4 linked regions of the Homo sapiens genome follow. The protein of the gene in region 1 purifies or fractionates together with the protein of each later gene. This does not show direct contact. Each region holds a gene or a part of one and is shown in the gene's direction. Other genes may lie near its edges.

Evidence for each region.
Region 2: the proteins of ADCK2 (region 1) and MTARC1 purify together in Homo sapiens (affinity purification with mass spectrometry; one large-scale study listed by BioGRID and IntAct). This does not show direct contact.
Region 3: the proteins of ADCK2 (region 1) and BRI3BP purify together in Homo sapiens (affinity purification with mass spectrometry; one large-scale study listed by BioGRID and IntAct). This does not show direct contact.
Region 4: the proteins of ADCK2 (region 1) and ST13 purify together in Homo sapiens (affinity purification with mass spectrometry; one large-scale study listed by BioGRID and IntAct). This does not show direct contact.

Annotation. Positions count from the first base shown.
Region 1 is NC_000007.14:140,689,945-140,692,777, forward strand, and holds part of ADCK2 (uncharacterized aarF domain-containing protein kinase 2), read left to right. Parts: intron 1-815; coding exon 816-869; intron 870-2,833. UniProt on the Homo sapiens protein: The function of this protein is not yet clear. It is not known if it has protein kinase activity and what type of substrate it would phosphorylate (Ser, Thr or Tyr).
Region 2 is NC_000001.11:220,807,413-220,810,912, forward strand, and holds part of MTARC1 (mitochondrial amidoxime-reducing component 1 precursor), read left to right. Parts: intron 1-3,500. UniProt on the Homo sapiens protein: Catalyzes the reduction of N-oxygenated molecules, acting as a counterpart of cytochrome P450 and flavin-containing monooxygenases in metabolic cycles.
Region 3 is NC_000012.12:125,014,145-125,017,644, forward strand, and holds part of BRI3BP (BRI3-binding protein precursor), read left to right. Parts: intron 1-3,500. UniProt on the Homo sapiens protein: Involved in tumorigenesis and may function by stabilizing p53/TP53.
Region 4 is NC_000022.11:40,832,640-40,836,139, reverse strand, and holds part of ST13 (hsc70-interacting protein), read left to right. Parts: intron 1-252; coding exon 253-337; intron 338-469; coding exon 470-580; intron 581-3,468; coding exon 3,469-3,500. UniProt on the Homo sapiens protein: One HIP oligomer binds the ATPase domains of at least two HSC70 molecules dependent on activation of the HSC70 ATPase by HSP40. Stabilizes the ADP state of HSC70 that has a high affinity for substrate protein.

The DNA of each region.
Region 1 (2,833 bases):
TCATCCAGGGGTCGCTGTTCATTTGGGGACAGCCAAGCATACAGGGAGGGAGGACTGTGGTCTCCAAGCAGCCAAATGATGTGCCCAATGCGCATGTCCCTTATTTAAACCCAAGCCAGAGCCTGCTTTGTATTTTATACACAGTTCTAGCAAATGTGACTGTTTTATCCCCAAGTTCATGGCCACATTAGCAGGAATGGGTCAGACAAGGAGTGGCCACTGGCACGCTGGCCCTGCTGATAGTCTATCCAGGTGTGATTTTTTAAAAATTTTTTTGAGATGGAGTCTTGCTGTATCACCCAGGTTGGAGTGTAGTGATGCTGTCTCGGCTCACTGCAACTTCCACCTCCCGGATTCAAGCGATTCTCCTGCCTCAGCCTCCCGAGTAGCTGGGATTACAGGCACCCGCCACCACACCCGGCTAATTTTTATATTTCTAGTAGAAATGGGGTTTCACCATGTTGGCCAGGCTGGTCTCGAACTCCTGACCTCAAGTGATCCGCCCGCCTTGGCCTCCCAAAGTGCTAGGATTATAGGCAGGTGTGATTTTTGTGGTTGCTTCAGGGATGGGGTGGGTGGGGCTCAAAGGCTTGTCTTCCAAAGGCCTCTGTGACCGAGTCTTGAGGTGGAGTTGGGCTTGTGCTGGAGGAGTCCTTTCAGAGTTTGTCAGATGGTCCCTTTTGTGCTGACTGGTGTATGTGTGCCCTGGCGGGGGAGTGGGGTGGGATGCTGGGGCTGAGAGTGTGGGGGTGGTGGGAAATGAGCGGTTCTGGAAGGCTCGGTGGTCTGCATTAGCCTTTATTTTGTTTTTCCAGCTTCATGTGTCCAGCCTTCTCTCTAGTGTCTTTAAGTTGCTGATGACTCACAAGGTGAGGGCCATTCAGAGGGGAGGTCTCTGGGGAAGGTGGGACGGGGCAGGGAGGAATGGGAGGACACAGGGTGGTGGGAGGCGCTTCTATTATATGGTTCTTGTTTTTTGTTGTTGTTTTTCTTTTTTTTGAGACAGAGTCTCACTCTGTCGCCCAGGGTGGAGTGCAGTGGCGCGATCTCGGCTGACTGCAGCCTCTGCTTCCTGGCTTCCAGTGATTCTCTTGCCTCAGTCTCCTGAGTAGCTGGGATTACAGGCTCCCACCACCACGCCTGGCTAATTTTTGTATTTTTAGTAGAGACGGGATTTCACCATGTTGGCCAGGCTGATCTCGAACTCCTGACCTCAGGTGATCCACCCTTCTCGGCCTCCCAAAGTGCTGGGATTACAGGCGTGAGCCACTGTGCCCGGCCTATTATATATTTTGAAAGCATTTTTAGTAACAAGCCATTTGCAACAAGTGCTTCGTAGCTGTTAGTCTATCTGTCAAGTCAGTGCAGTCTAAGTATCTGTGACATTTAAATGTAGAAAAGTGTATTTAAAAATGTAGAAACAGCCTACCTCTGGCTTTTCATGTCTTTCCCTCCTTGGTTCACTTTCATGATGCTTGTGTTAATGTAAGTCATGCTTAGCTCTTTCCTGGTGGAATGAAGTCCTGGGGTCCAGAGGCCGCTCTAGAGGGTCATGCCTTGTGTCCTGGTGCTTTCAGAGGCCCTAGCGGGACTGCTGTGGCCCCTGCCTGGCTGCTGTAGTCCATTAGAGGGAGCTGGCCTCATGGTTCATCTTAGCCTGTGCCCCGGCTCTGTCGCCTTGTCATGGAGCCTAGTCTCCGGCACTCTTTAAACTAAGGCTGCTGGCCAGGGACAAGCAGTGTTGAAGGTGGAGAAGGGAGGACCTCGTTGGAAGATGGCCTTTTCCATTGCATTACTTAACTATATGACATCTATTAGTAACCAATTTATCCCCTCAGTCTTCCAAGAGGCAGGCACCAAAGCCGAGAGGCCGAGCAGCTCACCTGTGGCCATGTGGGCAAGCCCCCGCCTGCTGCTGGGTCCTCCCGCCTCCGTGGCTCACTCTGAGCATCTGCTCCCCACACAGTTTCCAGCACGGTGGGTGAGGGGCCTTGAGTGTTTGCTGCTGCTGCTGCTGTTCCCAGGATGGAAGAGGAGACAGAGGGCCTAGGGCAGCTACTGCACTCCAAGCACTTCACTAGGCACTTAAGTTTGAAAACATTTACAAATTTTTCATTGTGATGAAAAACACATAAAATTTAACCCCCCAACCCTCTCCAGATGCATAGTGTTAGCATTGTGCAACAGATCTCTAGGTCTTTCTCATTTGGCAGAGCTGAAACTCTACAGCCATTGACCAGCTCCCCATTCCCCTCTCCATCCGGCCCTGGGAACCACCATGCTGTTTTACGTTTCCATGATTTTGGCTACTCTTGATATTTCATATAAGTGGAATTATAAAGTATACTGTCCTTTTGTGATTGGCTTGTTTTACTCAATATAATGTCCCCAGGTTTCATCCATGTTGTAACATGTGACAGGATTTCCTTTTGAGACAGGGTCTCACTGTGTCACCGAGGCTGGAGTGCAGTGGTGCAAGCTTGGCTCATTGCAACCTCTGCTTCCTGGGTTCAAGCAATTCTCGTGCCTCAGCCTCCCAAGTAACTGGGATTACAGGCAAGTGCCACCATGCCCAGCTAATTTTTGTATTTTTAGTAAGAGATAGGGTTTCGTCATGTTGGCCAGGCTGGTCTCGAACTCCTGACCTCAAGTGATCCACCTGCCTTGGCCTCCCGAAGTGCTGCGATGACAGGCGTGAGCCACCGCGCTTGGCCTGTTATTCTGTTGATGCTGTTGATGTTCACGTGGGTTGCTTCCACTTCTTGGTTATAGTGAATAATGCTGCAGTGAACATGAATGTGTAAATATCTTTTCAAGATCCTACTTTCAAATT
Region 2 (3,500 bases), on another chromosome or scaffold:
TTTCTACTAAAAATACAAAACTTAGCTGGGCATGGTGGTGGTCACTTGTATTTGCAGCTACTCGGGTGGCTGAGGTAGGAGAATCCTTTGAATCCGAGAGGTGGAGGTTGTAGTGAGCTGAGATTGTGCCACTGCACTCCAATTTGGATGACAGAGTGAGACTCTGTCTCACAAAAACAAACAAACAAACAAAAAAACAAATATATATAGTCAAGTGTTAAGCTCAGAATTCAAGCAGCGGGTAAATGGGTGTTTGCTGTAAAATTATTTCACCATTTGCCTGCTTGAGAATTTTCATAGTAAAATTTTGGGGGGAAATGTCACTATATGTGACAGAACATTGATGAGAGGACCAGGGTTATAGCTATTCTTTGAAATGCGCTCACTCACCATCAGAACAAACCAGAATTCAGTCTTCCTGTTTTCCATGGCCACAGAGGAGCTACTAGGGGCAGAAAGCAGGGTGGGCCAGCGGGAAGATCCCGGGCTGGGAGTCAGGAGACCTGGATGTGCAGCACACCGACTGCTGTGCTCCTACCCCTGCCCGCACTCAGACCCTGAGTGTTCTTCCCTATAAAATAAAGGAGGCAGGACAGAAATAGATGATTCTGTGTAAATCAGCCAAGTGGTTTGGGGAATTGGCTGTCATCCTTTTTTGTCCATCTTGTTCTTTCTCTTCCCCCTGTGTGTTGCTCGGTGTGGGGCATCCTTCCCTCTGGATTTAGAAGGTTTATGCTCTTGCAGAAACAGCCTCCGCAAAGCACTTCACGTGTTTGGGCTTGTTCTCTGCATCTTCAGTGCCCCCCTTCCTCCATTGGGAGCCTGTGTTTATAGAAGGAGGATAATTGACCCTAAACACAGAGTGAGGGTGGGAAGGCGGGGGGCGCAAGGAGCCAGCACACCCCCCTGATCTTCCGCAGGCTTTGTGAAGCCCAACAATCTGGCCCTAATTGCTTCTAATACCCCAGGAGACAGTGCGGCCAGCCTAGGTGTCTTCTCCTATCTCTTACTGAGATTTAAATTGCCATGGATGTGTAATTTATGTTCTTCCCAAGACAGGTGGTCATAAATCGGGAAGAGAAAGGCCTGGCCACATCCCATAAATCATGGGAAGGGAAGCAAACAGTGGTGTCCACAGCCTCTCTGCTATTGGGCAGGTTGCTCAGAGCTACACCACTTTCTGCCTCTGGGCACTCATGGTGCCCATGGCTGGGGTTGCTTCTGGAATGCCAGCGCTCAGCTGGGAGACCTCTGTGCCTGACCAGCCCTGCCTCCTGATGTTAGTCACCCACAGGCAGAGCCCGCGGTGGTACAGCAGTGGGAGGAAAAGAAATACAGAGGCATAGGGAAGCCTTTGTCTGTAAAATGCTCACAGCGGGAGGCACAGTGGAGGCATGTCTGCTAACAGGAAGATATGAAAATGGAATTTTTCTTTTCTTTCTTAAGGGAAAGTGACGTACACACTGATCCCCATGGTTGAAGGAATGGCTGGAGTCTGCCGTTGTTGCTTCCATGACATTTTGCCCCTAATGGAAAGAATATAGCACAGTTACTGCATGGGTACTCAAAAAAAAAAACGTTTTGCTGGATGCACGAATACTGTGACAGTAATGACATTTGCCAGCAGCCACTTGTGTCAGGCTGTGCTCTGCTGAGCTAAACACAGAATATATAGCAGTGGTAACTCCATGGGAGGAGGCAGACTCTCCACCCTAGTCTGGCTCTGTCACCTCCTAATTGTGTGACATTGGCAAGTCGCTTAGGCTCTTCAAGTCACAGTTTCTTTATTGGTATAAACTGGACTTGTAATACCTCTTCTGGTAGACTGGAATAAGGCAAGATATAGGATTTTTATAGATGATAAAATACTGTACACAGTGACCATGTAAGCTGCGGTCATTGAGAGTCACTGTTTATAAACTTGACACCTTCTGAGAGGAGGAGAAGCCTGACCACACTTCTTCCCATACTCAGAGGCTGCTTTAAATGAAACCTAACACGAACTTGCCCAGCGGCCAGCCTCTGGAGGTTCAGTGTGGCACCTCTCCCAGGAACGTTCACGATGCCGTCTAATTCTTCAATTTAATTTAATTTAATTTAATTTATTTATTTATTGAGACAGAGTCTTACTCTGTCACCCAGGCTGGAGCACAGTGGAGCAATCTCAGCTCTCTGCAACCTCCGCCTCCTGGGTTCAAGCAATCCTCATGCCTCAGTCTCCCAAGTAGCTGGGATTACAGGCATGCGCCTCTACGCCTGGCTAATTTTTGTATTTTTAGTAGAGACAGGGTTTCACCATGTTGACCAGTCTGGTCTCAAAGTCCTGACCTCAGGTGACGTGTCTGCCTTGGCTTCCCAAAGTATTGGGATTAACAATGCTGTTTAATTCTTAACCTGGCCATAGAGATAGGCAGTCATGAGGCCTCAGGAATGGCTTCTGCCGCTGGTGACTTATGGTCCCATGAACGCCAGTGGTGGGATCGGGCAGTGACCAGATACTCTGCCTGGAGTCATGGCCTGGACGTTGACCAGTGAATGCGTAAACCAGGCAGGGTAAACAAGGATCAGCCCTCTGTGGTGCACAGCACTTTAACGGTAACAAACTGTTTCCATTTACATTGCACCTTGTAAATAATAGAGACCTCGGTTTTAAGCTAAATAAAGTGTCTTGGGCTTCCTGCTCATTAGAATAGTTATGTTTCATGTTCATTTAAGGAGAAAGTGCACTAAGGAAGATTTTAAATGAGTTTTAATTTATTAATACCAACAGGAATACATATATGAAAAGTCACATATTTAAAAAATCGTAGAAGACCCATGTATGAAAGAATACTGTTTCAGAGTGTTGAACTTAGTGTGCGCACGAATTCATAGACTGCTTGCAATACCTCTTAGTGCCACAAGGCGCCGCTAGTGACCTCGTTGAGTCTTCCCACAGCCTGGAGGCGGGCTTCCGCAGCAGTAGCAAGAGGAGGTGGTGCAGGAGGCGGTGAGAGCCCGCAGCAAAACCAGGCAGCTGTAGGAAAGCCCTGGCAGGCCGGCCCACCGAGAACCCCTTTTCCACTCCCATAGCTCTTCCCGCTTCTACTCCTAGACAGCGGAGTGGACCGCCACCTGTGAGCCGGTGACCACACCTGCACTTTCACAAAGCAGCTCCCTCACCCCGACCTGTGCAGTTTAGGGAGGCTGTGCCGAGAGGGGCAGCCGCTCTTTACGGTCCTCTGCTCCTCATTACCTGGTGGGGGAGTGAGTGTGTCTGTGCTTGGTTGGCAGGAAGGGATAGGTGAAAAATGTAAGTGGCTAGAAATTGGTGTAGGTGACTAAATTGTGAGACCCCTCGGTTCTTCTCAGGCCTGTGGGTGTACTCAGGAGGATGTCGACGACCAGGGTTACATCCTGGGTGGGAAGAGTCCACTAGACTCTGAAGTCAGCCAGGCCTGGGCTCTGGCCCCAGCTGGATCCTTTAGATCTGTGATCTCAGGCAAGTCTGTTACTCCCCC
Region 3 (3,500 bases), on another chromosome or scaffold:
CGTGCCCCATGGTGTGCCAGGTAAACAGGGATCTCCTAGCTGCCCCCGCTCCACTGCTCTCCTTCTGTCCACAAGGTGGAGGCCGCTCTTCCCCTGGGCCTTTCCAGAGGAAATTCCCCAGCTGGGCTCTTTCCAGCCCCACCGCCCTGGTCCCTGGTCCCAGCTGCCACCTGTCTCACGGGAAGGTCTGCAGTTGCTGCATGTGGCAGGGTTCCTAAGACCATCTACAGGCTCACCGGTTCCCTAGGAGCACTGGCAGGACTCAGCATATAGTTGTCCTCACAGCCGTGATTTATTGTGACGGAAGGACGCAAACACCATCAGCAAAGGGAAAAGGTGCGCGAATTCCCGGGCAGGCCAGGCCCAAGCTTCAGAGTTCTCTCCCTGTGGAGTCATACGGGACACACTTAATTCCCCCAGCAGAGGGTGCCCACCAAGGACTCCCTGCCCAGGCTTTTTACTGGGGGCTGGTCATGTAGTCACCCTCTGCTTGACACGTGTCAAAATTCTAGACTCCCAGAGGGAACGCAGGTGTTGTCATAAACCACATCATTTGTGTCAACAGCCTAGGCCTGGCATCTCCAGGCTGCACTCTGGCCCCAGCTCTGCACCTGGCACAAAGAGGCCCTTTTTGTTTGTTTTTGTTTAGGATCTCACTCTGTTGCCCAGGCTGGAGTGCAGTGGCTCAATCACAGCTCACTACAGCCTCAACTTCCTGGGCTCGTGATCCTCCCACCTCAGCCTCCCGAGTAGCTGGGACCACAGGCCCATGCCACCACACCTGGCTAATTTTTGAATTTTCTGTAGAGACAGGGTCTTACCATGTTGCCCAGGCTGGTCTCAAACTCTTGGGCTCAAACCATTCTACTGTTTCAGCCTCCCAAAGTGCTGAGATTGTAGGCGTGAGCCACCACACCCAGCCCACCCTTGGTTAATAAGAGCAGGAGGGCTGTGGGTCCCACTGCTTAGCCAGTCATGTGGGCTGAAATGTGCTCCTCAAGAATATGTGTTCCAGTCCTAATCCTGGACCTGTGAGTGAGCCCTTGTTTGGGAGTGGGGTCTGCAGATGTGATAAAGTTAAATGAGATCGTCTTGGATTAGGGTGGACCCTCAGTGTAATGATTGCTGTCCTTATAAGAAGTGGGGAATTTGGACACAGAAACACCAAGAAACATAGGGAGAAGACGGCCATGCGAAATGAGAAACAGGGACTGGAGGGACGGAGCCACAAGCCAAGGAACACTGGGACCACCAGAAGCTGGAAGAGGCGAGGAAGGATCCTCCCTTGAACTTTCAGAGGGAGTGTGGCCCCACCAAGACCTTGATTTCAGACTTCCAGCCTCCAGAACCGCAAGTGGATGAATTTCTGTTGTAAACCACCCAGTTGGTAGTGGTTTGTTGCGGCAGTCACGGGAAACCATTATACCATAGCCCTGTTACATGCGGAATCTCTCAGCAGCGCCCATTGGTGCTTGACACCCAGAGATGGGGGAGTGGGGTCCACTGGCCATGATGGGCACACTGGTTCATACCTGTTGACACCCCAGGCCATTCAGAAATGTCTCCAGCCTTAATTCATTGAGTTCAACCTTTAAGAGGCCTTAGGCCAACTCAGTCACCTCACTGCTCAGACAAAGAATCAGAGGCGTCAGCATAGCCAGAGGACACTGTGCACCTGGCAGCCCCCTGGGGCCACTCATGGCCCCTCCAGGGACTTGGCAGAGTTAACGCACCCTCCCCCAGATGCAGCCACCGCGTGCAATCCTCTTAGCTTCCGTATCCACCACCTGCCCGGATTGTCAAACTCTCTGTGTTTTCGTCGCCACCCATTGAACCCTGGAGAAACAAACCTGATTGCAGAAAATCGCACGCAGCTTGGAATGAAAAACTACAGAGTAGGAACAGCCTCCTAATCATATGGAAGAAGCCCAGAATAGAGGCATCGGCAGCGGATCCACGAGCCCTGAATGCCTGCATTCATCAGGGGAGCAGCTGGCGCGTTCTGGAGGCGAAACGAGCTTGCTTCCGTGTCGAAGCTTTTCTAGTTCTGTTTGATGCGTAAGCTTCAAGGCATCCGAAGCCCTTTGGAATTCGTGTCTTATGCGTAGAAGTTTGAGTGCAAAATGCTTTACAGGAAGCCATACACCAACGTTGGATATTCTGGTAAAAAAGGTTTCTGTGAGCACAATTCTATAATTTCTTTCTTCAGTGTTTTTTTTTTTTTTGAGTCTGGTTAAAATGGGAACTCTGTAGCCCCGAATGGTCTAATAGCAAAAAAATGTGAGCCCCCTAGGTGATGTGAAGTTTTCTAGTAACCATGTCAAAAGAGTAAAAAGAAATGGTGAAATTAGTTTTTCTTCCTTTTTTGGGGGGGAGGGGGTGGGGAGTGGGGGGTAGGAGGGACGAAGTCTCACTCTATTGCCCAAGCTGAAGTGCAATGGCGCTATCTCGGCTCACTGCAACCTCTGCCTCCTGGGTTCAAGTGATTCTCCTGCCCCAGCCTGCCAAGTAGCTGGGATTACAGGCATGCACCACCACACCCGGCTAATTTTTCTGTATTTTTAGTAGAGACAGGGTTTCACTATGTTGGCCAGGCTGGTCTTGAGCTCCTGACCTCGTGATCCGCCCGCCTCAGCCTCCCAAAGTGCTGGGATTACGGGCATGAGCCACTGCGCCCAGCCTTTTTTTTTTTTTTTTTTTTTTTTTTTGAGACAGAGTCTTGCTCTGTTGCCCAGGCTGGAGTGCAGTGGTGCAATCCCAGCTCACTGCAACCTCCACCAACCCAGGCTCAGGTGATCCTCCCACCTCAGCTTCCCAACTAGCTGGGACCACAAGTGTGCACCACCACATCTGGCTAACGTTTGTATTATTATTATTATTTTTTTTTTTCTGAGACCGAGTATTGCTCTGTCGCCCAGGCTAGAATGCAGTGGCCGATCTCATCTCACCACTGCAACCTCCACCTCCCGGGTTCAAGCAATTCTCGTGCCTCAGTCTCCCGAGTAGCTGGGATTACAGGCACCTGCCACCATGCCTGGCTAATTTTTGTATTTTTTTTTAGTAGAGATGGGGTTTCACCATCTTGGCCAGGGTATTCTCGAACTCCTGACCTCATGATCCACCTGCCTCGGCCTCCCAAAGTGCTAGGATTACAGGCGTGAGCCACCGTGCCCCCCTAATGTTTTTTTTTTATAGAGATGGGGTTTTGCCATGTTGCCCAGGGTGGTCTCGAACTCCTGAGCTCCAGTGATCTGCCTGCCTTGGCCTCCCAGAGTGCTGGGATTACAGGCATGTGCCACCATGCCCAGGTGAAATTAATTTTAATAAGATATTTTAGTTAACCCAATATATTAAAAACAACTTATAATTAATAGAAAATTATCAGGTGTCTCACAGTTTTTTGGGTAACTAAGGCCTTTGAGACAGTCTCTATTTGACACTTAGAGCGCACATCAGTTCTGACTTGTCACATTTCAAGGGCTCAGCACACGATAGATGGC
Region 4 (3,500 bases), on another chromosome or scaffold:
TCATACTAAGAATGTGCTATTCTATTGTTAGTTAGGGGCTTACGTACTCAGAAATTGTCTTACCTCGTGAGTTACAGTATAGGTGTGGTAAGATTTGCTTTCAAGAGCCAGTTTTAGTATAACTTAGTTGTCTTTTTTATTTTTACTTGATTAAAAGAAAAATGTAAAAGACTTAACTGGATAACAGATCAAAACTTTTTATTAATATTTTTATCCTCTGAATATTTCTCGATAACTTTTGTTTCACTTTAGGTGAACTCCAGAAAGCCATTGACTTATTCACAGATGCCATCAAGCTGAATCCTCGCTTGGCCATTTTGTATGCCAAGAGGGCCAGGTGAGAACTCTAAACAGAAAAGCATCCCCTGGCAAATAATTTCTGCACATTTGTTTAAATAGAGTTGCTTCTGTGTTGATCCCAAAACTTTTACTGAAATGAATACTTTTTAATAACACACTTATTTTTCAGTGTCTTCGTCAAATTACAGAAGCCAAATGCTGCCATCCGAGACTGTGACAGAGCCATTGAAATAAATCCTGATTCAGCTCAGCCTTACAAGTGGCGGGGGAAAGCACACAGGTAAATAATTGAATTTAATTATTTTCAGAACTCTTTACATTTAAATCTGATGTTTTAAGATGCTTTGTTTAAACAAAAACACAAAAGTTCCTAATGACTTAATTTTCAAATTAGTGTGTACTTAGTATCAAGAAGTGAGATAGCTTGTAGACAGCTGCTTAAAAGGTAAAAGAAAAAAAAAAGAAATTTAAAAGAAGAAGTGAGAATATAGGAAGGAAGAAATAAAAAGTATTTTCATTTTTTTCATTCAAATAAAGCTACTCTTACCAGTTTTTGACTACATATGGCCAAATATAAGGAAAGGATTTTTACTTAAAATTAATTCCAGGAAAAGAAAGAATGATCTTTTATCAGTGTCCTTACAAATTTTCTCTTACTTTCAGACTCTGTAAGTTAGCATTGAACTACCAGTGTATTATAGAAGAAGGAGTATGCCAGCCTGAAACTACTTCAGTCACTGCTAGGCCACCTGAAAAATTAGGAGAAGGCGGGGGGGCATAAAGAGGTGAATTTAACCCAGATTAGTAATTATACCTTGCAGCAAAACTTAGGAATATTTGTATCTTGGGAATGAAGTGTTCAGTGACTTTCACATGTTACCTGGGTTGAAAGGGCTCAAATGTGGATGGAGATAAAGATGGATATGTTTTTAGGACAACTGTATTAGCTGACTCAGAGTAGCTCTAGTGGATTTTATGACACATGTTAAAGATAAACATTAAAAGTTGAAATAAAATTTATTAATGCTGTGTCAGCACAGGAAAAGCCCATGCATTGCTGTTGATCCTTTTGAAATCCCATTAGTCCAAGTATTTCTTTGCCTTCTAATACAAGACAGCGTTGGCTCATCTTGTGCTTTGCTTGTCTCAGACTGAAAATAAGCTATTTCTGTGGGAAATCGTGGTTCATTATAGCGGAAACTAAGATTTGATCACTGTGTCTGTTCATTGCTTCTGGTATGTACTGTCGTTTCAATGAACAGCTAGAAAAAAACATTTTAAAAATCATGAATTTAGGGAAAAAATTCTTGAAATTGTGAGTTTATACTGATATTTTCTATTAAAATGTAACATTAAATGTTTTGTTTTACCTTTTAGTTTGTATTTTTGACACTTGTGTGGTAAAAATTTTTGTCCTAGTTTTACATTTACTTACTACAATGCTGTGATATACATAAAACTGTTTCAGAATTACAATACCTTAAAAACAGTATACACTCTAAGTAAAGTTTGAAGGTTTTTTGGGAAGTTTTTGTTTTGCTTTGTCTTTTGTTTCTACACAGAGTCTCACTCTGTTGCCCAGGCTGGAGTGCAGTGGTGCGATCTAGGCTCACTGCAACCTTCACCTCCCAGGTTCAAGTGATTATCCTGCCTCAGTCAGCCTTCTGAGTAGCTGGGATTACTTACAGTCGCGCCCCACCATGCCCAGCTAATGTTTTGTATTTTTGGTAGAGAGGGGGTTTCGCCTATTAGCCAGGCTATTCTCAAACTCCTGGCCTCAAGTGATCTGCCCTCCTTCCCCTCCCAAAGCATTGGGATTACAGGTGTGACCCAAGGATGTTCTTATTCTTAGAATATATATCCCACTTGAAATATACAGTCAAGATAACTATGAAAAGTTACTTGAATTCATTTTTTTCTGTGTAGCTTATGTTGTTAATGCAATACACAGTGTTTTGTTTTGTTTTGTTTTGTTTTGAGGCATTTTGCTCCTTCACCCAGGCTGGAGTGAAGTGGTGCAATCTTGGCTCACTGCACCCGCCCCGGGCTCAAGCGGTTCTCCTGCCTCAGCCTCCCAAGTAGCTGGGATTACAGGTGTGCGCTACCATGTGTGGCAAATTTTTTATATTAGAGATGGGGTTTTGCCACATTGGCCAGGCTGGTCTTGAACTCCTGACCTCAGGTGATCCACCAGCCTCAGCCTCCCAAAGTGCTAGGATAATAGGCATGAGCCATCGCGCCTAGCCACACCTTATTTCTTTTTTTTTTTTTTTTTGAGATGGAGTCTTCCTCTGTCACCCAGGCTAGAGTGCAGTGGCGCGATCTTGGCTCACTGCAAGCTCTGCCTCCTGGGTTCATGCCATTCTCCTGCCTCAGCCTCCTGAGTAGCTGGGACTACAGGCGCCTGCCACCGCGCCTGGTTTTTTGTATTTTTAGTAGAGATGGGGTTTCACCGGGTTAGCCAGGATGGTCTTGATCTCCTGACCTCGCGTTCTGCCCGCCTCGGCCTCCCAAAGTGCTGGGATTACAGACGTGAGCCACCGCGCCCAGCCACACAGCTTCTTATTTCTGTTTGTATTCAGGTTTAGGATTTGCTTTATTTCCATTTTTCTGATTTTATTTTTTGAGTATGTAAAGCATTTAAATGTTCGAAGAGTTACACCTGAGTTAAAAGGTATACCCAGTGAATTCTCAGTTTTCGTTGCTGTCTCCTCTGCCCCATTCTCACCTACTGTCACCAACCTTTAGTTTCTGGTTTACTTGTTCTGAGTTTTTCGTAAAGCCTGTACACATGTATTATTTTCTCTTCTGTCTTACATAGAAGGTAGCTAAAAGCTAACACATTATGTTAGTCCTGGTTTGGGCGAGTTGAAAGTTACTGGTCTACATACTTAGAAAATTACGATATTCTGAATTAAGAAAGATTTTGTTTGTTTTTTAGCTTTTAGTAGAAAAGCAGCTTTAAATAGAGGAAATTTAAATGTTTTCAGGTTTTTATAGAGTTAACTAAAATGGGATATAGTAATTGAATTGGTTAGTGAAAGTTTATAGTTAATATTTAACTTAAGCCTGTTTTAGAACAATCCTTTTTTGTAAGGAAGAAAGATATCATGCCACATAGGTGAATATGTATAAAAGGCTCCTAAAATGAGTGTAAATCTGTTTCAGACTTCTAGGCCACTGGGAAGAAGCAGCCCATG